Linked DNA regions of Homo sapiens: all the other regions are linked to region 6. The links come from fine-mapping of genetic effects on gene expression. A gene starts in region 6. Each other region holds a variant in brackets. All regions are shown on one strand. Distances are between the middles of the regions. Region 1 overlaps IQSEC1 (IQ motif and Sec7 domain ArfGEF 1). Region 2 overlaps TMEM40 (transmembrane protein 40). Region 3 overlaps IQSEC1 (IQ motif and Sec7 domain ArfGEF 1). Region 4 overlaps IQSEC1 (IQ motif and Sec7 domain ArfGEF 1). Region 5 overlaps IQSEC1 (IQ motif and Sec7 domain ArfGEF 1). Region 6 holds the start of IQSEC1 (IQ motif and Sec7 domain ArfGEF 1).

Evidence for each region. PIP is the estimated chance that this variant, and not a neighbour inherited with it, causes the effect. A credible set is the group of variants that fine-mapping cannot tell apart.
Region 1: its variant is the best candidate, but not a certain one, in a credible set for the expression of IQSEC1 in esophagus mucosa (GTEx, PIP 0.51).
Region 2: its variant is the best candidate, but not a certain one, in a credible set for the expression of IQSEC1 in whole blood (TOPMed, PIP 0.81).
Region 3: its variant is the best candidate, but not a certain one, in a credible set for the expression of IQSEC1 in whole blood (INTERVAL, PIP 0.89).
Region 4: its variant is the best candidate, but not a certain one, in a credible set for the expression of IQSEC1 in nasal epithelium (TOPMed, PIP 0.69).
Region 5: its variant is the best candidate, but not a certain one, in a credible set for the expression of IQSEC1 in whole blood (INTERVAL, PIP 0.80).

The regions. Positions count from the first base shown.
Region 1 is chr3:12,938,417-12,942,517 of GRCh38, forward strand. It overlaps IQSEC1 (IQ motif and Sec7 domain ArfGEF 1), which reads right to left. Exons shown (of 14, transcript NM_001134382.3): 2 at 3,155-3,449. The region is part of intron 4 of LOC105376956 (a long non-coding RNA gene); the gene reads left to right. Among named protein-coding and RNA genes, the nearest start is that of LINC02022, 55 kb to the left of the region's middle. The variant T/C (reference allele first, on the strand shown) is at 1,957.
Region 2 is chr3:12,747,734-12,751,733 of GRCh38, forward strand. TMEM40 (transmembrane protein 40) reads right to left here. Exons shown (of 12, transcript NM_018306.4): 2 at 2,027-2,107; 3 at 922-1,059. The coding sequence starts at 2,099. Among named protein-coding and RNA genes, the nearest start is that of TMEM40, 9.5 kb to the right of the region's middle. RefSeq lists an enhancer at 1,568-1,617 and a silencer at 1,888-2,037. The variant G/C (reference allele first, on the strand shown) is at 2,269.
Region 3 is chr3:13,014,274-13,018,374 of GRCh38, forward strand. All of the region lies in intron 1 of IQSEC1 (IQ motif and Sec7 domain ArfGEF 1), which reads right to left. Among named protein-coding and RNA genes, the nearest start is that of IQSEC1, 57 kb to the right of the region's middle. RefSeq lists enhancers at 1-111, 112-611, 869-1,637, 941-1,020, 1,638-2,405 and 4 more. The variant C/T (reference allele first, on the strand shown) is at 2,211.
Region 4 is chr3:12,975,164-12,979,264 of GRCh38, forward strand. The region is part of intron 1 of IQSEC1 (IQ motif and Sec7 domain ArfGEF 1); the gene reads right to left. Among named protein-coding and RNA genes, the nearest start is that of LINC02022, 92 kb to the left of the region's middle. RefSeq lists an enhancer at 3,887-4,101. The variant G/C (reference allele first, on the strand shown) is at 2,101.
Region 5 is chr3:13,026,107-13,030,207 of GRCh38, forward strand. All of the region lies in intron 1 of IQSEC1 (IQ motif and Sec7 domain ArfGEF 1), which reads right to left. Among named protein-coding and RNA genes, the nearest start is that of IQSEC1, 45 kb to the right of the region's middle. RefSeq lists enhancers at 707-1,208, 1,209-1,708. The variant A/G (reference allele first, on the strand shown) is at 2,170.
Region 6 is chr3:13,071,565-13,075,665 of GRCh38, forward strand. It overlaps IQSEC1 (IQ motif and Sec7 domain ArfGEF 1), which reads right to left and starts at 1,865. Exons shown (of 14, transcript NM_001134382.3): 1 at 1,428-1,865. The coding sequence starts at 1,450. RefSeq lists silencers at 1,781-1,940, 2,061-2,240.

The sequences.
Region 1 (4,101 bases), 130 kb before region 6:
CGTGCTGCCTGGCTCTGGGTGGTCCCAGCAGGCTGGGTGGAGGAGAAGAGCTGGGGGGGCTTGAGGGGAGCAGATCAAAATGACTTTTCCAATCCCAGGCCACAGTCTGTTTTCTCTCTCGCCCTGTTACTGAACGCCATCCAAGAAATGACCTCACTTCCACAACTGTAAGCAGAAAGTTTCTATTTTTTGGGTTGTGAGTGGAGCTTAGAAAGCCCCTGGGGCCCATAAGAGGCCCAAGGCTGGGATCTAGGAAGCCTTTCTTCCCTCACTGTACTTTGTGGGCGGCACAAGTACGAGGACCTCCAGCTCAGGCCTAGAGCTCCCCGCAGGGCCTTCTCACCTGCTGGCTCCGGACCTCGCAGACCACGCAGCCACCCTGTTTTCCTGAGACCTCCTGCCCAAACCTGTGTGTGTTGGGGGCGAAGGGACTTCAGGAAGGCAGCAATGGGCTCTGCATTTGTTCACCAGAGCCCCTGGCAGTTCCTCCCCCAGGGGGACACACATGGACCTGGGGCTACTCTTCCTCGTCCCCAAACTTACCGTGGGTCATTCTTCTTTCTGGGATGGAACTATTGCCAGGCCCGGTCGAAAAGTTTCCCGGGACCCAGTGGATGAGATTCTACTAACATGTGCTCATCTACTATGTGTGCTGGGGACCCCCATACCCTCATGCCACCTCACAGCAGCTTCTGCTCTCCCGAGGGGTTTCACTACCCCACTTCTCAGCAAGGACAAGACACTCAGCGGAGGGAAGACGCTCAGCGGAGGGAAGCCGCTGCCCCAGGGCACATGGTTCCTGGATAGAGGAGTCGACCCCGTGGCCAGGGCTCCCCCATCCGGCCCTCACTTGTCCCTTCAAGGGAAACTTCTGAGCAGTACAGAAGAGGAACCCGGAAGAATGCCCTTCAGCAAAGCAGAACTGTCACTTCTTGATGACACAGGGACAGTACCTGAAACCCACTCAAGTTTCCTGCTTCAGGGACAGAAAGCCACTGGAGGGCACAGTGGGTCAGGGGCCAGAAGAGCACAGGAGACTAGCCCTTGGGCTCCTTTCACTAAAATGGACTCTGTGTTATCCAGACTTAAAACTCCTCGTGGAATCGGGCACCCTACTTTTTCATCTGGTGATTCCCATGCAATCTGTCCCATTCCCACTTTTGCTGAGCTTTCCAGGAAGCTCAGTGGACCATCAAATGCTCAGTGGCCCTTGATGTCGCCTCCTCCCTCTTACCTCTTTGGAACCTCTTCCAGGCCTTCCTTTCCATTTCACACACTCGGCAGCCTTTACATCAGCTGTTGCCTCTTCCTGGGACAGCCAGCTCTAATGCCTCCTTAGAGAGGTCTTCCCAACCAGCCTTACCCAATGCTATTGCCTCCCGTAGCTGCCCTATTTCTTTCCCCAATGTTTAGAATCCCTAGAGTTTGCATTACTTTCTGGAAGTCAACTGCCTCTGCATTGCTAACTTGCTCCTGTCCAGCTCCTGTGCCACAGTGGAGCTCAAGAGCAGGGGCCTCGCCTTGGTCATGGGCACCCAACACAGTGTCTGGTGCATAGTGGGCGTTCAGATAATATGCATGGAATGAAAATGAATAGCTGCAGTCCTATTAGGCCCACAGTAAGCATATAATTCTCTTCAAAGGCCTCTATTAAGTCCCAACCTTTCTCCTTTCTGTTTAAATGGCTCTGTTGCAGACATCTCTTACTATAAACCGTGGTCCACTTTGGATCTGGGCATCACGGATAAAGGAACAGAGGTTGCTCTGCCCTGTGTCGGTCCGGCCTAAGTTGCAAGGCAGCACCGACAGCCAGGTGAGGAAGGGGCTGATGGGGGCTTCCCTGTCAAGAGAGTGGACGACCCCCAACCCCAGGCAGTATCTGCACCACTCCCTTAGGAAGTTGGGGCACACCAGGCCCAGAACTCTACTCCTTAAAGGACAAAAAGGGGAGCAACT[T/C]GAATCTATACTCCCAGCAAACACAAACAAACAAAAACAACCCAAAAATTGTTTTTAAAGAAAAAGGATAACCAGGAAGATCTGGGAGCAAGCAGAGGGCGGGCGGGGCCACAGGATGGGTGTGGGTGGGAGTGAAGGCCAGGGGCTTCTGCAGCATGGAGTCTGGGAAGACGGGAAAGGGCCCTGGGGCCAGCAGGGGCAGAGGCAGCTGCCTGGGCATCTGGAGGAGCTGTCTAGAGCTCAGTGCCCAGGAGCTGGGGAGAGTCTGACAGCCCTCCCCAGCCTGCCCCTGCAAGCTTGCAGAACTGCTGCCTGGGAGCCCGGGTTCTCTTGAAGCCTCAAACTGCTAAGCGGCTTGTCCATGCACTGGCCCACTCACCCCCTCACTCATCCATCTGTGCAGTCACTCAGATCCTCATTCAAACACCTACTGTGCACCTGCACTTGGAGGGACTTGGAAGCGAGAGCTCTTGGCCTCCCCAGGGACCGCTCAGGGCCTCGCTCTTTCCTCTGCACCCCAGGATTCTCCTCTCCTGGCTCAACCCTGAGAGGCTACCTCTTGTCCTCCCTCAAGCCCAGCCCTAGGCACACTGTGGGTCTGGGCCACCTCTAAGGGCCAAGGCCCCTGGGGGAGGGGTGCAGTCTTCAATGAGGGGATTTCCCACAGGAGCAGGGAGGTGTGAGCCAGGAGGAATAGAGCAAGCAGCCTCCCCTGGCTGGCTGCCGATGGGGTTCTTTCCAGAGCTTGTGATATTTATGCTGTCAATGGACCTCCCTCCCTCAGCCCTCTCCTGGGTCTTTAGAACCTCAGTGGCCGGCCACGTACCCAGTGTGTCCCGATGACACTGGGCCTCATGCTCAGACACCTATCATGGCCCCCCAGATCTGGGCCATGCGGGTCATGGAACCCGGGCCATGGCAAAGGCCTCATGTGAAGACAACTCTCTAGAAGTCCCCAGAAGGAACGCCAGACAACCCAGGTCCTTCATACACGCCAGCCAGAGCCAGCTGGGGCAAGAGGCTCCTGAGAGCAGCTACAGGTGGAGCTGGAACTGGGGCAGAGCCCTCAGCCTTAGCCCACATGCACCCCAACTCAAGTCTATGGGAGAGATCTGCCACCATGCCTGGTGGGGGCACACATGGTGGGCAGAGCTGCCCTGCGCTTGCATGTGTGGCCTGAGGGGCTGTGCTCTCCTACCTGCTTGTCCTGCAGGTCCGAGGAGAGCTCATAGCTCTCGGAGAGTGAGCGTGAGCGCTTGATGGCCTCCTCCTCAGCCTGCTTGCGCAGGATGGAGGTCGAGTGCTGCAGCTTGGGCCTCCGCGTGCGCTGCTGTTGCCCCGGCGGCCCCGAGTACAGCCCATAGGCTCCCACTGACGTGTGCTCGTAGTGATCCGGGCTCAGGCTGGAACCGGGCACCAAGGGGCCCTGGGGGTAGGCTGAGGGGCTGTCCAGGGATGTGCCAGTCTCACTGCTGGGGGCCTCGCCCTCGACGCTGCAGAGGAGAGAGAGGTGAGAAGCTTCTGGTAAGCGGGAAATCTGAACACGACACCGGGCCGTGGGGCGTGACCCCACCATGCTCCTGGAGGAGCCCCCATGCCCGTTCTTCTCACACCCCATGGCTGAGTCCACATGTGCAGCTGGCAGGACCCTGCAAAACCCCTCCACTCAGCACCCCACCCACTCGGGTTCAGTTTCTCTGTGAAGTGCACCATCCTCTGACATCCCATATACCTTCCTCATTGATTTTGCTCACTGTCCATCATCCACATGCAAATGCCAGCTCCCTGAGGACAGCAGTTTTGGCCACTGGGTCGCTGATCACCCCCAGAGCCCAGAGCAGTGCCTGGCACACAGCAGGTGCTCAGCAATTACTGACTCAGCGAATTCTGTCGCCTTTTCTCCTACCACCTGCATTAAATACACCACTGATTTTAAACTTAAAAAAAAGGCCGGGCGCGGTGGCTCACACCTGTAATCCCAGCACTTTGGGAGGCCGAGGAGGGCGGATCACGAGGTCAGGAAATTGAGACCATCCTGGCTAACACGGCGAAACCCTGTCTCTACTAAAAAATACAAAAAATTAGCCGGGCGTGGTGGTGGTCGCCTGTAGTCCCAGCTACTCAGGAGGCTGAGGCAGGAGAATA
Region 2 (4,000 bases), 320 kb before region 6:
ACCCTATCTCTACTAAAAATACAAAAATTTGGCCAGGCATGGTGGTGGATGCCTGTAATCCCAGCTACTCGGGAGGCTGAGGCAGGAGAATCGCTTGAGCCCAGGAGGCGGAGGTTGCAGTGAGCCAAGATCACGCCGCTGCACTCTAGCCTGGGCAACAGAGCAAGATTCTGTCTCAAAAAAAAAAAAAAAAAAAAAAAAAAGATGCTATTGGATGTTGTTCCTCTAAACCCACTAAAGTACTTGCAAGGACTCAATACTTAGGAATGATTTGCACAAAAATTCAAAAGGCAAAAGCTTTCGCACAAGGATGCTCATGAGCATGATAAACCTGGGAGGGGAAGACCATAACACAACAATTACTTTTAGAGCTTTTAATATGTGCTACATGCTAAGACTTTACCTGTATAACGAATTTCATCCTCACAAGAATCCCATGAGGTATTATGTATTGCTCTCATCCCCATCTTCTAGATGAGGGCACTGAGGCGCCAGGGGTTGAGCAGTTTACCCAAGGACGTGTAGCTACTTAGTGGTAGAGACAGGATTTGAACCTGTAACACACGCTTTGACTATGGCACTGGGGTGCCTCTAATAAACCTAAATGTTACTTTACATGAGATGCAGCCACTTGAGGGGCTGTTCAGTAAACATTAAAAATAGCTACAGCGATATTACAGAACAACATGGCTAAAAGCTTAGGATAAGATGGGGAAAATTTTAAATGGAGGACAAAATTGCCTATACGATCAATGATAACTGTGTACGTAGAAGCACATGTAGACAGATCGGCTCTAGAAGAGAATGTGGAGAAACGGTATTGGAGTTTCAAGTACTTCAATGACTTCAAGTATGGGGGATTATTTCCCCATGTAAATCTTTTTCTTGAATAATATACATATATTTAAATCTCTGCTATACCTGAGGAGGAGGAGGATGAAGAAGATGAGGAGGATGAGGAGGAAGAGGAGGAGGAGGAAGAAGACTTGTTTCTCTCATATTGTTCTTGGGAAAAGAGTCCAGCCTTCCCATCTTGCTTGTGGAAATCTGTCTCTCCATCTACAAGGCACACAGAGGCCAGGGGATGAGCGTTTCCCACCCTTCCCACCCCAGGGACCACCCAGTCCTCTCCAGGGTTCTACTTGGATTTGGAGAGCCAGGAAGGACTGGATTATCTTCCCAAATATCTAGAGCCAATGCAACATGCAGGAGACCAAGGCTCTCAGAGATGCCAGGGGCTCACGGAAGGCTCAATACAGAGATTTATCTGAATATGGACTCAGAAAAGGGGTTTCTTTCTTTTTTTTTTGAGACGGAGTCTTGCTCTTTTGCCCAGGCTGGACTGCAGTGACGCTATCTCGGCTCACTGCAAGCTCTGCCTCTCGGGTTCATGCCATTCTCCTGCCTCAGCCTCCTGAGTAGCTGGGACTACAGGCGCCCACCGCCACACCCGGCTAATTTTTTGTATTTTTAGTAGAGACGGGGTTTCACCGTGTTAGCCAGGATGGTCTCGATCTCCTGACCTTCTGATCTGCCCGCCTCGGCCTCCCAAAGTGCTGGGATTACAGGCGTGAGCCGCCGCGCCCGGCCAGAAAAGGGGTTTCTAAGCCCCCTGCCTTGCCCAGAGACAGCTAGATTCTGTAGAGTAGTTGCTAATTTAGGATCCTCTGTACATTACAGCCAAGATGAGGTGTGATCAAGTCCTAAACCTTCCCATTCCCCATTCTGGGGTCACACAGGACCCTCTCCACCTTCTAGGGGTGCTCCCTAGTGCCAGCCCAAGCCCCCAGAGAATTCTTGAGATTTGGCAAGCAGCTGAGGGTCCCCATAGCTAGACAGCACAGGAGGACAGATTGGACCATGCAAATGTGTGTGTGCATGTGTGTAAAACCACTACTTCCCCATTTCAGCTGTGATTTGAGGCCCTGTGCAACGTGAGTTGAGCAGGGTCTTCTTCTGTCCCTTCTACTTTTGGACTCCACCTCCCATGTGGTTTTGCCCAGAGGGTCAGAGAAGGCAAACGTACAGTCTACATCTTCTGTTTCTCTGTGGACTTGACTGTTGTCCTGAGGCTGGGAGGAGGATGCTGAAGTCTCCATGGCTTTTCCTGGAGGAATAACAATAATCAGTAGTTAATATCACCTTAGTTAATATCTTAATATACAAAGAGCTTGGCAAATAAATAAGAAAAAGACAAACACTCAACATTCAAAGGAATAAGAAAAATAATTAACAAAAAAAATGGTAGTTCTGTTGGCAAGCAAGAAG[G/C]CCGGGGTAGTGGAGGGAGGAGGGTTAAGGGAGTGGGAATTGGGGTGGTGGGTATTGGTTAGGCAACTAGCAGGGGGCTTCATGAAGGAAATCAGTTTTTATCTGTGCCTGAAAAGTCAGGCACAATCCTTTTTCTTTTTCTTTTTTTTTTTTTGTGGAAACAGGGTGTCTCTATGTTGCCCAGGCTGGTCTTGAACTCCTGGGCTCAAGCAATTCTCCTACCTTGGCCTCCCAAAGTGCTGGGATTCAAGTGTGAGCCACCATGTCCAGCCTAGGTACAATTTTGACAGGAATGCAGATTTGAAGTTGGTGAACCAACTCCAATCCCACAAACATGGCCAACATCCAGGAATGACTAAGCAAAAAGGCAAGGGAATCCTGGGCCCCGGCCGGCCTCACACACAGAGCCACCTGCCACCTCTTGACAGCTACGTGCACAGGAAAGAAGTTTCTTTTAATGGAGCCCATGTGCTATGAGTCTCTGTTATAGCAGCTGAGCCAGGAAGTGCAGGCTTCCTTCTGATTCCTTGCCCTATTTCTTCTTCTCTCAGCTCTGAGGCTGAGACCTTAAATCTGAGAGGAGGTAGATTTACTAGTCTCTGATTCATTTATTTTTTACTTCTTTATTTGAGACAGAGGTCTTGCTATATCACCCAGTCTAGTCTTGAACTCCTGGGTTAAGGCAATCCTCCCACCGCAGCCTCCTGAGTAGCTGGGACTACAGGCACGTGCCACTGTGGCCAGCCTCTGACTCATTTAAACCATGTTTCTCAGCCTCAACACGACTGACATTTGGGACAGGGTAACACATTGTGAGATGTTTAGCAGCCTCCTCCCAGATGCCAGTAGCACTTTCCTGTTCAGCTATAACAATAAAAATGTCTCCAGACATTGCCAAATGACCCCTGTTGTGGGGCAAACATCACCCCCCATTTGAGAATGGTCTAGAGAATCTACCACAAGACCTTGGCAGGAAGCCTCCTCCCCTGTGTCTTAGAGCCAGATTGCCTGGGTTGGAATCCTGCCTCTGCCTCTTCTAGCGATGGAAGCATGGGCTAGTTACTTAATCCTTCACTGTGCCCTGGGTTTCTCATCTGTAAAACGGAGACAGTAATAGTGCTTACCTTATAGTATGTGAAAATGGCAGGACAGTCCTTAGCAGGGCCATTGTGAATGCGTGTTTCCTTCTCTACAGGCCTCCTCTTACCCTTGGACATTCAGTGTCCAGTCCCATCCCTGCTCATCCCCCATCTCGTAGGCCCCAGACTCCATTACCCGTTTTTTTTTTCTGTTTTTTGAGATGGAGTCTCGCTTCTGTCGCCCAGGCTGGAGTGCAGTGGCATGATCTCAGCTCACTGCAACCTCTGCCTCCCGGATTCAAGTGATTCTTCTGCCTCAGCCTCCGGAGTAGCTGGGATTACAGGCGCCACACCATGCTTGGCTAATTTTTGTATTTTTAGTAGAGACGTGGTTTCACCATATTGGCCAGGCTGGTCTCGAACTCCTGACCTTGTGATCCGCCCGCCTTGACCTCCCAAAGTGCTGGGATTACAGGCGTGAGCCACTGCGCCTGGCCTACCCTTTTCTAGAATAAAACTTCCCATTTCTCAGAGCAGAATTCAGCTAGGCATTAGGAAGTCACTAGCCATTAAAATGCATCGATATCGAGATGGAATGACTGACAGCAGAAGCCTCCAGGGCATATTTCTATTTTGAACAGGGTTCTCTGCAC
Region 3 (4,101 bases), 57 kb before region 6:
GGAGATTCCCCACAGAGGCCTGCTTCACCATCTAAGCCTCACAACAACCCCGGAAGGGAGGACTTTCGCTATGGGTTATATGGAAACCCAGGCCCAGAGATGTTGGGACATCTGTCCCATGTCACATGGCTGGGGCACACTGGGGAGCTGGGATTTGAGACAGAGTGACTGACCCCTCAGGGCACTGAGCAGCCTTCTGTCTGCAGCGTGGGGGCAGGGGTGAAGGTGCCCATTGCTTCCTTATCACTGGGCCTCACTTTTTCCATCTGCCACTGGTTGGGCTCCAGTCCTAAGGAAAGGGCTATCTGTCTTGCCTGCCCCCAAGAGCCAGGGCTGGGGTGGGGGAGGCTTGGCTGGGAGTGAGAGCTCCCAGGCTGCTCCCTGAGGCTGGGTCGGTAAAAGCTTCCTCTGACCCATCTGTTGAACTCCCTGATGACCCCAGTGAGCCAGGGGCTGTTGGCCCAAGGACCCCAAGAGGTCAGGCTCAGGGGTTACAGCTCAGAACCCAGGGAACATCCCCCAACACGCTCCCAGCCCCAGGGATCTACAGATCCTCAAGGTTCCACTCTGGATCATTTCAGAAAGATACTGAACTTGTCAGTGGGTCAAGGGGCTCCTGGGGGGACACATACTGGGCTACTGCCAGATGGGAAATGGCCCCAGCGAGCCTGGGGCAGGGAAGACTTCTGCAAGGCAGTGTCTCCTCAACACAGCCTGGGGAAGCCTTGTGTTCCCTCAGCCATAAACCTCCATTTGCTCAAAGTTTATGCACCATAGGGTTGAGGGGGGCAGCAGTGTGGGAAGGAAACACACCAAATATGCTCCAGGAGCCCTGGGCCACTGTGTGACTTCTGAGGGCCTCTGAGGACTTCTGACTTCTGTGTGACTTCTGAGGGCCTCAGTTTACTCGGCTGTAAACTGGGCATTGTCAAGAGTCCATCTTTCTCAGGGTGGTTGTGAGGGCCGTAGGCAGCGACCCAACACTCCCTGCCATCCAGGTGGGCTGCGGGGCCCTGGTTCTCAACCCTAATGGGGCCTGGGGCTGGTCTAACGCGCAGGGGAGCTAAAGAACTTCCCCTTGCGGCTGTGGGGAAACACCTGGTGTTCCTGGGCCCAGGGCGAGCCTGTGTGCATTCCAGGCAGTGAGAAACGGGTCACAGAATACAGCTCTGAGAAACAGTGAAAACTCTGACGACAGCCCCCAAGACCCTCACCACGGCAGGCTGCCCTGACAGTCGCCAGCCCCTCACAGGTTTCTCAGGGCTGCTGAGGTCCCCTCCCCGGGCCAGGTGGGTGGTACTCACAGTCTCAAAGTGGAGGGGGCGGAGGTGTCCCTGGAACCCCAGTGCCTGGCCTGCCTCTGCGGCCCCGGGGGATGAGCTGTGGGTCCATCCCCACAGCAGGTCCTGACGTCTGACTTCCTCCCTGCTCAGTCGGCATCCAGGAAACCACACCCAGGGGAGAGGGTGCCAGGCACCCTGGGGCCCCCGCCCACCTGCCCTCCAAAAGGCCCCCAGGCACTGCTGAGGGGGCTCCTTCCAGGTCTGGCAAACCCAAATGGCTTCACTGGGCAGGCCCCAGTCAATAAATAATACACCCACCTCCCTGGACAGTCTCTGGTGCCTGATCGTGTTTCAGGGCCACTTAAGTTCCAGGCAGACTGCTTTGTTCAGAGTGCCGGGCCCCTTCTGGGTCTCTGGCCACATGGGCACTGCACTGTCACGGAGGGCCAGCTGGAGCCAGCAGCATAAAGTAGTGTGACAGGGGTCCCTGGAGAGAGGGTGCCCTACTTACTTAGCAGCTTGGGCCCAAAGGGGACCCAGGGGTGGTGCCAGGGTAGGGTGGCCAGTCTCGTCTCCCCATGGCCAGGCAGGGCCCCCCACATCCCCCACAGGGGTGCCATCTGGAGAGCCGCCACCAGCCCATCCTGACATTGCCAGTGTCCGGGCCCAGGCCCCTCCTCCAGGAAGCCTCCTCTCCGCCAGGAGTGCTCTGTCCCTGTCTGAATTCCCACTGCAACCGCCAGCCAGTCTGTCTGTCTCCTTCTTTGGGTCTCAATTGTCATCTCTCATCTAAACAGTGGCCGGCCGCCACATCTCAACCGGCCTTCCCTGCCCCCAACGCCCCACCACTCCCTCTCCACAGTCTCATTTCCTCACAGCAGCCCGGGTGACGGTTTTAAAACAGAAAGCACAGCAATGTTACCCAGC[C/T]GTGGCTCTCCCGCCCCAGTCAACTTTCAAGCCCTCTCCAGGATCTGGCCCTGCCACCACGGGGACTGCTCCTCCCGCCCTCTCGACTCCTGCCAGCCTCCTCCTCTGTGCTCCTCCTGCAGGTGCACACAGACCTCAGGGTCCTTACACCAGCTGCTCTCTCTGCCTGCTCTTCCCCAAGGTCCTCACAAACTCACTCCACCCTGTCACTCTCAACGCAAGGCCACCACTGCAGACGAGTCTTTGTTTTCTTTTCAAACAGTCTTATTAAGATATAATTCACACACCATACAACTCACCCATTTAAAATGTATAGTTCAATGATTTTATTAATAGTATATTCCCAGAGGGGTGCAACTGTCACCACTATCTATGTTTAGCATATTTTCATCACTCAAAAAGAACCCCTCCCCAGCCCTGGATCACGGCAAACCTACCTCCCGTCTCTATAGATTTGCCTGTTCTGGACATTTCCTAGAAACGGGACCATACGCTCTGTGGTCTTCCGTCTGGCTTCTTTCACTTAGCATGATGTCCTCAAGGTTCACCTGTGCTGTAACACGTGCCAGAACTTCATTTCTTTTTGTGGCTGAATAATATTCCACACTATGGACAGACCACATTGTGTTTATCTATTCATCCACTGACGGCCACTGGGAGAGGCCCTTCTTGACCTCCCCAGGCCATGTGGCTCCCTCTCCCCGATCACTCTGTCATCCCTCCCTGTTTTATTTTCTTGGCACCGATCTTTGCCTGAAGGCATCTTCATTTGTTTATTTTCTCTTTATCATTTCTCTCTCACCTGAACATCTATCTGCTCCAGGAGGCCTGAGTGTCCACCTCACTCACTGCTGTATCCCCAGGGTCTAGCCCGGGGCAGCAAACAATAGGTGCTCAGCAAACTACTTGCTGATCAGCGGAAGAAAGCCTCTTCCCATGTGTCAGAGTGGCTCATGCCCATGCCGCCTTGCTGCTGGGCTCTGAGCTCTCGGCGACAAGTGCTGCCCTGTGGTGCTTGCCAAGAAGAGCCTCACCCACAACTCCGGTGAGGAAACCAGTAACGCAAAGCCTTGGACTCAGGTCCTCCTCTGTGCTGTGGGACAGTGCTCCTCACAGGGTGGGCGCTAGCTGGCTGGATGTGGGAATGGATAGTTAGCACCTGGCACAGTGTCAGGCACAGAGTAGGTCTTCATCCCCTGAACGAAGACTCGATGCAGGGAGAGGGGGCGGCAGTCACTAGCAGAGATGGGAACCGAGGAGAGGGAGGTGAGGCTGGCAGGGCTGAGGCAATGGTGAGGCCCACGGGTGAAAGGGGAAAGCAGCCATAAGGGAATTTATGTGTGCTCCAGGCAGTGCCCAGAGCCAGAGAAGTGGCGGCTCTGCTCTGCTCTGCCCAGGACCTCCTGCCCATCCCAAACTCAGCTCTGGGCTCTTCCCGGAGATAGACAGCACGAGCCAGGGTGTGTCCAGAAGGCGTGGGTGGGGAGGAGGCTGGTGACCCCTTCCTCAGCCTCAGGGAGTCCTGGTCTCTGCAGGCTGTCCAGAGCTGGGGAGCAGATGGGTTGTGAGGCTCAGAGGACAGGGCCAGGCCACTTCAGTGTGTGGGTGGGTGGCAGCGAGCACCGCAGGAAGGATGGTGCCAGTTCCAAGTGGGAACAAATGTCCTCGCGTCAGAGCTGCCTAGGCATGGCCCAGGCTGGGAGGTGGTGAGCACTCTGTCCCAAGAGGAACGCCCACTGGCCCTCCTGCAGAGGGGCATCAGATGGCTAATTGTCCAGGAAGCTCCCTGGAAGCTCTCAAAGGCTGGCTGCCAGCTGAGCTGTTCACGGCCCTCCTGCCCAGATGCAGCCACGGTGGGAAGGCAGAGGGGGGCAGGGCCAGGGCAGCCAAG
Region 4 (4,101 bases), 96 kb before region 6:
GTTCCTCCCCTTGCTTCACTATGGCCCTGGCACCTTGTACGGGGGCAAAAGTGCAAGAGGAGCCAAGGTGTGTTGAGTGAGTAAGCACCTTTTCCAGCCATTGGCTGCGTCCCATAGTGGGGATGCTCATGGCTTACGGAGGCTCCATGTTCTGGAGCATGATCTTGAATCTTGGGCAAGTGGTTTGGTCTTCCTAAGCCTCCTTTCCCAACTCTCTGCCTCTTCTTGCCTCTTCCTGCAGCCTCCTCTCACAGGGCACACAGTCTGGACCAGGCACTTTACAGAAGTGTCCACACTTAATCCTCAACAACCTTCCATTTTACAGATACACTGAGACTCAGAGAGGTTGAATAACTTATGTAAGGCCACACAGCTAGTGCCTGGCTGGATCAGGGATTTGAGCCCAGGTCCATTTGGTCCCCAAACCATGAACTTAACCATGAAGCTCCACAGTCCCTCTTTCCCCATATCCAAGGTGCTTATTGAATGCAGGTTCTGTGCTAAATGCATGACAGGTTGTCTCATTTAAGCTTCACAATGGAACTCTAAGGTAGGGACTATTCTATCTTCTCATCCAGAAAAAGAAACCAAGGCTCAGAAAGATTAAAGAATTTGTTTAAGGGCAAACAGCTAGTGAGGGATGAGAACCCAGGACTGAGTCCCAAGTTCATTCTTACAACACTATTCCATCTGACCTTCAAGGCCCAGGAGGAAGACCTCTGCGGGAAGAAAGTCTCTGCCTTAGCTGATGTGTGAGTAACCAAAGCAACCTTGGCATCTGCCCCCCAACGGCTGCAGAGGCAGACTCCTGGCTCGGCTCCCTTCTTGGCTGTATAGCCTTGGGCGTCACTTCTCTGAGCCTCAGTTTCCTCCTCTGTGAAATGGAACTGAATAATCTATGTCTCTTAGGTTGCTGAAAAGAATTCAGTGAGCCATCCGGTGCTGGGCCTGAGCGGTGCTCTGCTTACACCCAGCCTGCTCCCTGAACCCCACTCCCAGAGTGTACACCACTCCCCGCTCCCTTTGCTGTACTCTCCTCCTGGGGTCTGCCCCTGGCCCTCTGGAAGGGAGTGACACTGGGGAAAAGCAGGAGGGGGGCAGCAGTGGCCGCCCCAGGAGGGACTCTGCCAGCCCTGCTGAGCACACCCCACAAGCCCAGGTGGGGTCACAGTGGGGAAGCGGTCCTTGCCTTTTCCCCACCTCTTCCCCGGCTGCCTGCGCCTCACCATTCCTCACTCAAGGAAGCACATCCTCCGGTGGAGCCAACACTCACAGGGTCCCTTACAGATCCCCCTGGGAGCCTGGGACCAGAGCAGAATTGGGTTCTGCAGCTTCCAAGCCCCACCCTCAGGCATAGAGTCTGGGAGACAGACCTCATACATGAAGGGCTCTACGACAATACATGTATGTTCTGTCACTTCTTCCTCGGGACCTTCCTGAACCTTCGTCCACATTCTCTCTGTCTCATCGATTCCCTTTAAAGCCCATCTCACAGTCCATCATTATCTGGCTTAATCACTTATGTACTCACTGTCACTTCCACCAGAAAGTAGCTCTGCAACTTTGTTCATTTGCCACTGTATCCCCTGCCGTCTATAGCAGGTGCTCAATAAATGTCTGCTGGACAGGTGAATCATGTTGATCCAGATTCACTCTAGTTCAGGGACCACCCACAGGGCTAAGGTAGGTCTCCTTCCCTCTCCCCATGCTTATCCTTGTCTCAATCTCAGCAATTCCCTGCACCCCACCCCTCTTTATACCATAGAGAGATTCTGGAAGGGCTGGAAAAATGGTTTTTCAAAATCACTGATTCTCATCTCTAGTGTGCTAGGAGAGCTCAGTATTTAAAGGAACCCATCAGCTAAAGATTTTATTTAAAAAGGAGGCGTCAGGCTGGGCACAGCAGCTCATACCTGTAATCCCAGCTGAGGGATTACAGGTGGGAGGCTGAGGCAGGCAGATTGCTTGAGCTCAGGAGTTAGAGACTAGCCTGGGCAACATGGCGAAACCTCATCTCTACTAAAAATATAAAAAATTAGCCGGGTGTGGTGGCACATGCCTGTGGTTCCAGCTACTAGGGAGGTTGAGGTGGGAGGATCA[G/C]CTGAGCCCAAGAGTTCAAGGCTGCAGTGAGCCATGATTGCACCACTGCACTCCAGCCTGGGCAACAGTATAAAATCCTGTCTCCAGGGAAAAAAAAAAAAAGCGCTATCCCGTTGGCAAAACGAATGGCCATCCTTGGTATACTTCGGTTTCTTTCCTGGTAGCTTTACCAAAACTGGGGCTTATCTGCATATGAAAATGGGTGGAGAAACTGAGGGAATCTAGAAAAAATACAGAGAGAAAGCTGCAAGGGCTTGCCCTCCTTCAGAACATCTCACCTGGATGTCACTGGCTTAGACACCGTGGCAGGGCCGGGGCTGCATTCCTGGTAGCTGTTGGGGAGACAGCCTGCTGCCTTTTATGTAGTGAGTTCACACCAAAGAACAGCTACCAAGGGAATGCAGGGCCTCTGCTGTAATGAATAGATACGTTCATTTATAATAAGTGCTGGGTTCACCTGTTTTGTAAATGGATGCCATTAAGTGCTCCTAAATCAACAGCGTCTCCTAAGTGAGTTAAACATCCCTTTTTGCAGTCATCTTTATGTTACTGATTTAAACAACACCTTCTTTTGTCCCAGTGGAAGGAAGACCTGACCCAACTCCACTGATTGAGAATTAATGGAGGCAGGACATGTGTGACGTGTGATTCACTGTTTGAATAAATCTGTCATTGAGAATGTGTGCATTCCTGAATGTGCTCAATAACTTCCCAGCATACCTTCCCACCTACTATGTGTTAGGCACTAGGCATCTCAGAGGCTGCAGATGTGGGCCCTGCCCTCAGGAAACTCGGTTGGGTAAGGGGAGTGAAAGTAATTCACAATTGGCGTCAACTACATTCCTGCATGAGTTCACATAATCCTGACAGAAATTCTACAAGGTGCGGATTGTTTTCTGATTTATCACAGAGGCCTTGAAGCCTAGAGAAGGTAAGTAATTTGCACTAAGACACACAGCCCATGTGATGAAGCTGGGATTAGAGCCCAGTAGGCTGACACTCAGCCTGTGTTCCTTGCACTCCAACAGTTGTCCTCAAAGTGGGGTCCTAGAAACAGCAGCAGCAGCAGCCTCAGCTGGGAATCATTTGAAATGCAAATTCCCACCCCCCAGATGACTGTAATACCTGCAGCAGTTTAAGAATCTTTGCACAGGGCCGGGCGCGGTGGCTCACACCTGTAATCCCAGCACTTTGGGAGACTGAGGCGGGCGGATCACATGGTCAGGAGTTCGAGACCAGCCTGGCCAATACGGTGAAACCCCGTCTCTACTAAAATAAAAAAAACTACAAAAATTAGCCGGGCGTGGGGCGGGTGCCTGTACTCCCAGCTACTCGGGAGGCTGAGGCAGGAGAATCACTTGAACCCTGGAGGTGGAGGTTGCAGTAAGCAGAGATTGCACCAGTGCACTCCAACCTGGGCAATAGAGCGAGGCTCAGTCTCAAAAAAAAAAATAAATAAATAAAAAAGAATCTTTGCACAACAGTAAGCCACTAAAGCCACTAAATGCAGTAATAGGAGCAACCTGGTAGACAGGCAGGAATGATTGCTAGCTGGTGGATTAGTCATTCAGGGAAGGCTTCCTGTAGGAGGTGATGCCTGTCTTGGGATTTGTGGCATGAATGGGAATTCACCGGGTGGCCCAGCAGGATAAAGGCATTGCAGGTACATGAAGTGGCAAGGGCAAAGGCTTGGTTAACTTGGAAAATATTCCTGTAGTTCTGCATCTACATGGGGCATGAAGTGTGGGGATGGGTGCGCTGTGGGGCATGAGGCCAGTGGACCGAGCAGGAGCTTCATCCTGTGAGGGTGTAAGCAGGAGTGGGAGTGACCTGGGTTTAGTTTTCCCAACAACCACATAGCACCTGTATACATTCCAATTACTTAACGCTCTTCATTCTATCAAGAAAACTTTATATCTGCTCCACAAGTGAAAAGCCAGCCTCACTAAGCATAAATTGAATTTTCCCATGAAAATAAATCAACAAAAACAAAATGCTGTT
Region 5 (4,101 bases), 45 kb before region 6:
GGAGGAGAGAATGATAGGTCAGGGTACTCGTTGCCTCAGCTCTGTCCTCGCTTCCTGTGCCCCTCGGCAGCCACAGTCCTGATGGGTGGCTGTTTGCACCCAGGTCTCTCTCTTTCTGGTTCATGAAACTGTTCTCTCCCCCAACCCTCTGGCCCAGGGCTGGTTAGGGTTCCCCCCTTCTGCCAGCCCAGGTGTCCAGTTCCCTTAACCCCATCCCACCCTGCACACAGCCCCATCACGGGCCACACTGCAAGGGAGCTTGTGTAGTGACCCATGTTTCCTACCAGGACCCAATGCTCAAGGCTCAAACTCAGACGACACCTCCTCTAGGAAGCCAATTTTCCATTGGCTTGTTCCTTCACCCAGTCAACATTCATTAATTGGCTTACTCTGTGCCAGATATCACTTGAGGATTTGGTGAACAAAACTGTGGAGCCTGGTGGGGCTGGCCTTCCTTCTGTACCAAGGGAGCAAATGAAAACGATTTCCCACAGTGGGCTGTGCCATGAAGAAGGCGTATAAACTAGATCATTTCTCTGGATGATACACTTCCCTTCTCCAGGAGTCCATCCTTTTTTGCCCTGCATCCTCTCCGTTCCCTGAGCCTGGACTGCAGCCATTTCTTCCCTGCACTTGGATGACCTGTCTCTGCATCCCTCCCTCACTGCTCTGAGAGCTCACATGAGCAGGTGAGGAGATCTATGTAGCTTAGTTCTTTGCACAATCACCCTATGAAGTAGCAGTTATTATCTCCCCAGTTTTTTTTTTTTTTGTTTGTTTTTTTTTTTACCAATTAATAAACTGAGGTTCAGATGCTGAGGTTAGTTACTCAGGATGATATATAAACCCAGCTCTGCCTATCTGACTCTAAAGCTAAAGCTCTGGAGGCTGAAAACAAAATAAATCACTTGTCATTTATATCTGCAGTCTTCCAATGGTGCCCAGAGCCATGCAAGGCGCAGGAAGGCACATACACCGAGTTGGCCGAACTTCAAAACCCTGGATCCCCCTTCTCAAGAAGCATTGGCCTTTTGAGGATGGGTGCTGGAATGCCCGTTTTCCAAATGGAAAAATGAAAGTCCAGGGTGCTGAGAGCGTTGGGTCTTGGAGGACAGTAGTGGGCTCCCAGCCTCCCAGGCAGCTGGCATCCTGAGTTCCACCATCTTGTCTCGGGCCTAGGATGGCCACTAATATCCAGTGCGCAGGCAGGGGCTGGGCACTCACTTCAGGGCAGGAGCTGGGAAAGAAGGCAGAGAAGAGCTTCCGCAAGTCCATCTTATGGAGCACAAAGGGCCAGCGTCCAAGTTGCCAGACTTGGCCTGCAGGGCCTCACTTTACTTGCTGTGCAGAAAAGAGACCGCAAGGGGGCAATGGCCAGGCAGGGGCCAGGGAGGAACTGTTGCTTGGACTGGGGTGGTGGACAGGAAGGTGAGGACAAGAGGTTGGATTCTAGAGACATTCTCAAAGTGGAACTGGTAGAAATGTCTGATCAATAAGATGAGGAGGTGAGAGAGAAAAGAGGAGTGGAAGATGATGCCTGGGTTGCTGGCCTGAACAACTGGAAAAATGGAGGTTCCATCCACGGTGACAGGGACACAGGGATGGCCAGTGGGAGCAGGTTTGGAGGGATGATGAGGCAAGGCAGAACGGGGGGACTCCGACTGGTCAAACAGAACAACTGTGGCTTGGCTCTGGCTGATGGCTGCTCTGTAGGAATAAGGGCTCTGATTTTTCAGATATCAGAAATCCAGGTTTTTACGTAACAGCTCTTGATTTTTATATGTTTGCAATAAATTCAAATTTACAATGATATGTAGGTTAATCCTATGCAAGCCAAATAAAATACATCTGTGAGTGTCTAGCCCACAGGATACCTCTTGTATCCTCCGCTCCTTCTTGTCTTTCAAGGTCCACTTAGCTGCCTCCTCCCCCAGGAAGCTGCCCATGATTGCTTCAGCTCCAGAGACGCCTGTGGCCCCTCAAAGCCCCGCAGGGCTGATAATCCCAGACTGGAAGTGACAGGAGGACAAATAGGGGGTTTGCTTATCCATTTCTCACGCCTCAAGCATAGGGTTTGGCCCAGAGGGGGAGTTAATGAATGAATACCTGCCGAATGAATGAATGAACAAGTAGCTCACTTGATCCCTCTGCCCTTATTTTGCAAATAAA[A/G]CTGAGTCCCAGATAAGGGACATGACCTGCCAGGGTGGGATCTGGGGCCAGGGACTGCTCACCGTCTGGCCTCTGTTTGTCAGCTGTCCCCCGAGGCTGGGCCAGGCTAGGCCGGCAGGAAGTATAAAGACAATTGCACAGTCTTATCGAGTTATGCCATGGGAGGGTAGAAACAGGATCCTGAGCAGCTCTTGAGCATCTGGGTAGAGGCTGTTTGGGGGATGTTTTTCCAAGAACTTGCTAAGGTGACCCCAACCGGGGTCAGGGCAGAGCCAGACCCTAGAACTGGGTGCCTCTGCAGGTGGCATGGTCATGGGACAGATGACACCCCAGATGGAAGGACTCACATTAGCAATCAGTCAAAGTGACAGCCAGTCCCCATGGGTTGTCCCTTCTGAGGGTTCTGACACGTTTCCTTTCAGCCATGGGGAGGGCAGATGGTACTGGGTTTGACCATCAGGGTTTGTGCTCAGATCTTCTATGCAAGGAAATCAGACAACATAGGCACCGGAGGCTCTGGCCTCATTCTTCAGTGTTGGAGATGGAGAATGGAGTCTCAGAGGTGGAGGCGACTTGCCCTGAGGTCACACAGTAAGGAAGCCGCAGATCTGGGACTCCGGATCAGAAGTCCTGATTCTGAGACCTGCGCTGGCCAAGGGATCCTCACAAGCCGTTCCTCACACCTTCTGGCCTACCTCAGTTTCTTCATCCACAACATGGGGAGAAAAATAGGATCTATCTCCAGGGGTTGTGAAGATGAAACAAATGGAAGGAGCTAACGCTGTGTGACTGTACTGTGTAAAGCTATATAGAAGATCACGAATATATAGCAACTGCCCTTCTAAGCCTCTAGCCTTGAAAGTTTCTGGCTATGGCCGTCTTTAAAACTTCCAGGGTGACACAGCTCTCCATCAACACAACAAGAACGGTGATACCTAAGGGCTACTGAATGGTTCCTGTAGCCACTGCTCTATGTGTGACTAATTCATTTAATGCTTAGGCTCATCCCATGAGGTAGGTGCTATTACTATCTGATCTATAGGATAAAGAAAGGAAGGCAGAGAGAGGTCCACAGACACGCCCAGGGTTAATACAGATAGAACATGGCAGGGTGGGGAATTGAACTGAAGCAGCTTTGTTCTGAGACATGCTTCATAACCGCTACATAACACGGCTCTCCTCGGCTGGCTTGGAAGTCTTTCTCAATGTCTAACCTAAATCCTTTTTGTTGCAGGCTGTGCCTATTCACTACCCCCTTCCTTAGACAAAGAAGAAAGCTGCTCCCTTCAATCTCCATTTTGTTGTGCTGAGAGGCCTCAATTCTTTAGCCCCTGTATCCTGACTCCCTGGGTCTTGCCGTCCAGGTCAAGGGGGGCCAAACAGGAACCCTCCCCTTGTGCGTGAGCGTGAGTGTGTGTGCGCACATGCGGTGTGAGATGTGTGTGTGCGTGCATGCGTGCACGTGTCCACACAAATCCCCTTCAAAGAGGACTGGTGAGGACTGGTAAGGACTGCAGCACCCTGGGCTGGGTCCTCACCTCCTCACTGGCCTCCCTGCCTCCTTTCCTTGTCATCTGCTGCCTCTGGGCTGTTTCCCAATACCCAGACCTGTAGAGGTAAGTCTGCTGCCTGAACCTGCTCCATGGCTTTCCTCCATTCCCAGACCATTCCCAGCTCCACCCTCGTCCCACCTTTATTTATTTATTTATTTTGAGATGAGGTCTCGCTACATTAACCAGACTGGTCTTGAACTCCTGGCCTCAAGTAATCTTCCCATCTCAGCTTCCGGAAGTGTTAGGATTACAGGCGTGAGCCATCATGCTCTGTCTAAAATCTTTTTTTTATACAGTCTAACTCTGTCACCCAAGTTGGAGTGCAGTGGTGCAATCTCTGCTCACTGCAACCTCCACCTGCCAGGTTCAAGCGATTCTC
Region 6 (4,101 bases):
GATTTACTATTTGTTTCAGAAAATGCAGCGAGGGCCTTGCCACAGGGAGTGAGAACTTTGGTGTGCTCTGCTCGCATCGACAAACCAACCTGTGAGCTTCTCCACTAAAAAAGCAAGTGAGCATCACAGCGAACCAGAGGCCACCGTCATCCCTCGAACCAGAGGCCACCGCCATCCCCCAAACCAGAGGCCGCCATCCCCCGAACCAGAGGCCACTGCCATTCCCTGAACCAGAGGCCACTGCCATCCCCCAAACCAGAGGCCACTGCCATCCCCCAAACCAGAGGCCACCGCCATCCCCCGAACCAGAGGCCACCGCCATCCCCCGTGGGTTGCCGCCTGGCACTGCTGACGCAGCAGAGGCAGAGGTGTGTTTACTTTCCCTCAGTGGAGGTGACGGGGAGCTGCCACTCTATCAGGGGTTCCACAGGCCCCTGCCATGGTAAGGGGCCTCCATCGATTAGGGAGGCCTTGGGGTAGCCCCCAGAAGGCTCCCCACATACTGCTCCAGGCCTCCTTTTCCTAGCCTTGCGACTGAGCCCAGCTCAAGAGGACTCAGCCATGCTCTCTAACCTCCTAAGGTCTGAGGTCACTGCACAGCCCCAAATGAGTGGGTCCTGGGCAAATAGTTTAGGCAGGTGGAGACCTGACGCTGGGCCTCAACCCCCGCAGCCGAGGGTCCCAGAGGAGGGCAAAGGTTGCTCCTCCTAGAACAGCACAGTGCAGCGCCCAGAGAGCTGTGAGGGAAGCTGGCATTCGAACCCCACTGCCCCCTGGGAAGCCTGGCTAACCGAAGCGCAGGCTTTGGTTTCCATAAATACCCGGGCCCGTGATGTCACCGCCCCGTGCAGACTTTCACAGCCTCTGCTGCTGGCGTGAGGCCCAGCACACAGCCGCTCTGCTGCCAGCCCACAGAACACCTGGGCACACAGCTGGACACTGATGCCTCCGTGCTAGGGACGGTGGGCTGGACCTTCACCTGCCCTTGGAGGACGCAGCATCCTGGCCACTGCCTCAGCCTGCCTGCGACCTTCTATCAGGCATGGCTGAAGGGCTGGCCATGGGCGTGCTGGGCAGAGATTCTCTTCCTAAACAGGCTATGGGCTAAACCAAAGCCAAAACAGTAGGAGCCGGTCTGGGCACCCTGAATGTGGATCTGGGAGGGGGGATACCTGCTCTCACAGTTGGGAATTTCACAGCCTGCTGAAGACCTGCTGACTAATAGCCTTTTTCTCATCGTCATCACCAACAAACACCTCCGCTGCAGGGGCCGAGCGCCGGCATCCCTGCTGGGTGGCCAGCTCCCTCTGCAAGTCACCTGCACATCCACCTGCCCCTCCCCCAACGATGCCCCTCACTCCAGCTCCCAGCTCAGCCGGGCCCCTCTGGCCTCTGGCTTCAGGCAGAAACCTGCCACATATACTCACAAATAGCGTCTTCTGCAAGCCATCCTGTGTGAATCCGTTCTTCCCTGTTCTGGCTCCCTCTCCAGCGGGGAGGCTCAACGTGTTTCCAAGAGGAGCAGGCGGCTCAGGCAAGAAGTGGAGGGGAATAAAATTAAATCGCGGGGCGAGTCACATTCCCGGGGGTGGCGGGCTCCTCCAGGGAGGCTGGGGCGGGAGCGGGGGGCGGCGCCAGCAGCGGGCTGTGGAGGGCCCTGGCACGTAGCGCGCGCTCACACCGTGCCCAGGAGCGAGCGAGGACGTCGAGTAACCGTGGTCGCCAGGCTGGGCGGGGGCGTCCACCTCGCTGCTACCTGGGCCCACCTTGGGGTTTTTCCCTCCCGTCCATCCGGGGTGCGGGGCGCGGGGATGAGGAGGGGAGGGTCGAGAGAAGGCTGCCCCGGGTTTGCTCTCGCAGCATCCGGAGAAGGGGCGGGCGCGCCGGAGCCTCCCCCACCCCCCGCGCCCAAGGAGCAACGTAGTGCGGCCGCGCCGGACCAATCGCCGAGGCGCTGGTCGCCATGGCAACAGCAGCATCAGGCGCGGCCGCTCGGCTGCGCCCTCGCGGCAAAGTCACACACCCGGCGGGGCGCGGGGCGCCGGCCCCTTCCTGGCCCGCGCTGGAAACCTGGAAGTCTGTTGCTAAAATGCACGCGCCGCGCGGAGCCTACGATGACACTACTTTCCAAGGCGGCTTTTCTGCCTTCGGCACTGAGACACGCGAGCCGCGGAGCTCTCGGGGCTCTGGCCCTGGAGTGAGGCCGGCCGACTCCAAGGCTGTCTCTGCCACTGAAGGGCGATGAGACCTTGGCAAGCCGCGTCTCTCCTGGGAGTCTTGATTATGCTACTGTGAAAGGGATCATAACAGCTATACCACGGGGTTCCAGGAGGGCGCACCACGCCAGTAGCTGCACGGTGGATGGCAGAGCAGTCCTCGTTTGTGCCAGTCCTGTCCCAAAGGGGGCTGCACGTGGCTAGGGAGAATTTCTGGTCTAGCTATGGTGCCTCTTCCTCTCCCGAGGACCTTCCATGTGCCGGGCAAGTATCTGCCCTCATGATGTTTACAGTCTAAGGGGAAGCCAGGAAGTAAGTGTGCAGATATAGGATTGCACGTGGTGATAAGGATCAGGATGAAAAGAGAGCAGGAAGAGGGGAGGCAGGGACCCCAAGAGAGGCGGGAAGGAGGCTTCTGCCATCAGACGGGGTGGTCGGGAAGGCCCTCTGTGAGGCACGTGTGGCTGAGACTCGGATGACGCAAGAAGCAGGGGAGGAGCTGGCGTCAAGGCTCTGAGGCGGAAGGCAGCCTGGTGTATTTGACTGGCCCAGAGGAGGCCAGCGTGGTGCAGTGTGCGACAGGGAGGTGGAGGGGAGAAGCGCACATCCATCCTCGGCTCCCACACCCGCCTTTCCCACACAGATTTCTCTCTTCCTGTCTGATGTTCATCTGATCCTCTCTGCTTCCTCATCTGTAAACCAGGAATCCCAGACCTATCTCAGAGGCATGTAGATAATATTCTTCCGTGCACGGTAATCCTCAAGACAACCCCAATGAGGCCTAATACTATCATCCTACTTCACGGGGGAGCGCATTAAAGCCAGAGGTTCAGCAACTGGCCCAAGCCACATAGCTGGCGGGCAGTCTGGCTCCAGAGTCTTGGTTCTTGACTGCTTGAAAGCTGCCTCACTGGGAGGAATAAATGAGAGAGGGAGTAGTTGAGACTGGGAATCGGCTGGATGTGGATGGCAGCCCACAGGGCCATTTCCCTTCCTCTTTCCATTCTCTCCAGATTCACACTCACCGAATTTAGAAGGAGTGATGCTGCATCCTTGAGTTCCATTCCATCCTTTACAGGGGAGGAAATGAACCTCAGGGGGTGAGCGATTTGCCTAAAGTTGCACAGCAAAGAGTGGCAGAGGTGGGACTAGGACCCCAGTCTTCCAGCTCAGTGTCCTGGTAGGGAGCAGAGGTTGGAGCTGCGGCCTCAGGTGGCCAAGGTGAGGCATCGAACAGAACTGCATGACGCTTCCCGATCTGCCCTCTCCAGGTGAATCCATATGCATGACCAATCTTCCTGTAGCACGGACCTCCCTCCCTGAGTCATGTGAGGAATTCATATTTCTGTGGGTTAACATGTTGCAGAGCCCACCCCACCCCTCTCCTCACTGGAGTTTCAAAAGATTTTAATAACATCAAAATTCAGCCACTGCATCAGGAGGGCTCACTTTGTGTCAGGTCCAGTTGTTTCATGGTCTCAGTGAATTCTCAGAAGCGCCCTACGAAGTGAACATAATTACCACTCCTGCTTAGATGGGTTGCACCACATACGGGGGTCTCCCATCAAGGCAGCAGCAGAGCCCAGACTAACTCACAGCCTGGCTCGGGCTAGAGCAATGCCCCTCTCAGCCGCCTTGCTCAACTAGCGATTCTCTTCTCACTTCCATCTTCCAGAGGCGGAAACAGGCTCAGAGTGGTGAATTGGATGCCTTGAGTGTGGAGCACCCAGTGTCCCTTTCCTGGGCTTCCTCTTTTGCTCCCTGGGAGGCCCATGACATGCATCTGCACATCCGTTGCTTCTTCAGCACTTCTTCTTATAAACGTACTCTCCTTTTCCTTCCATGTTATGCTGTTATTTCAAAGCAGAGGAAATGGCAAGGACCC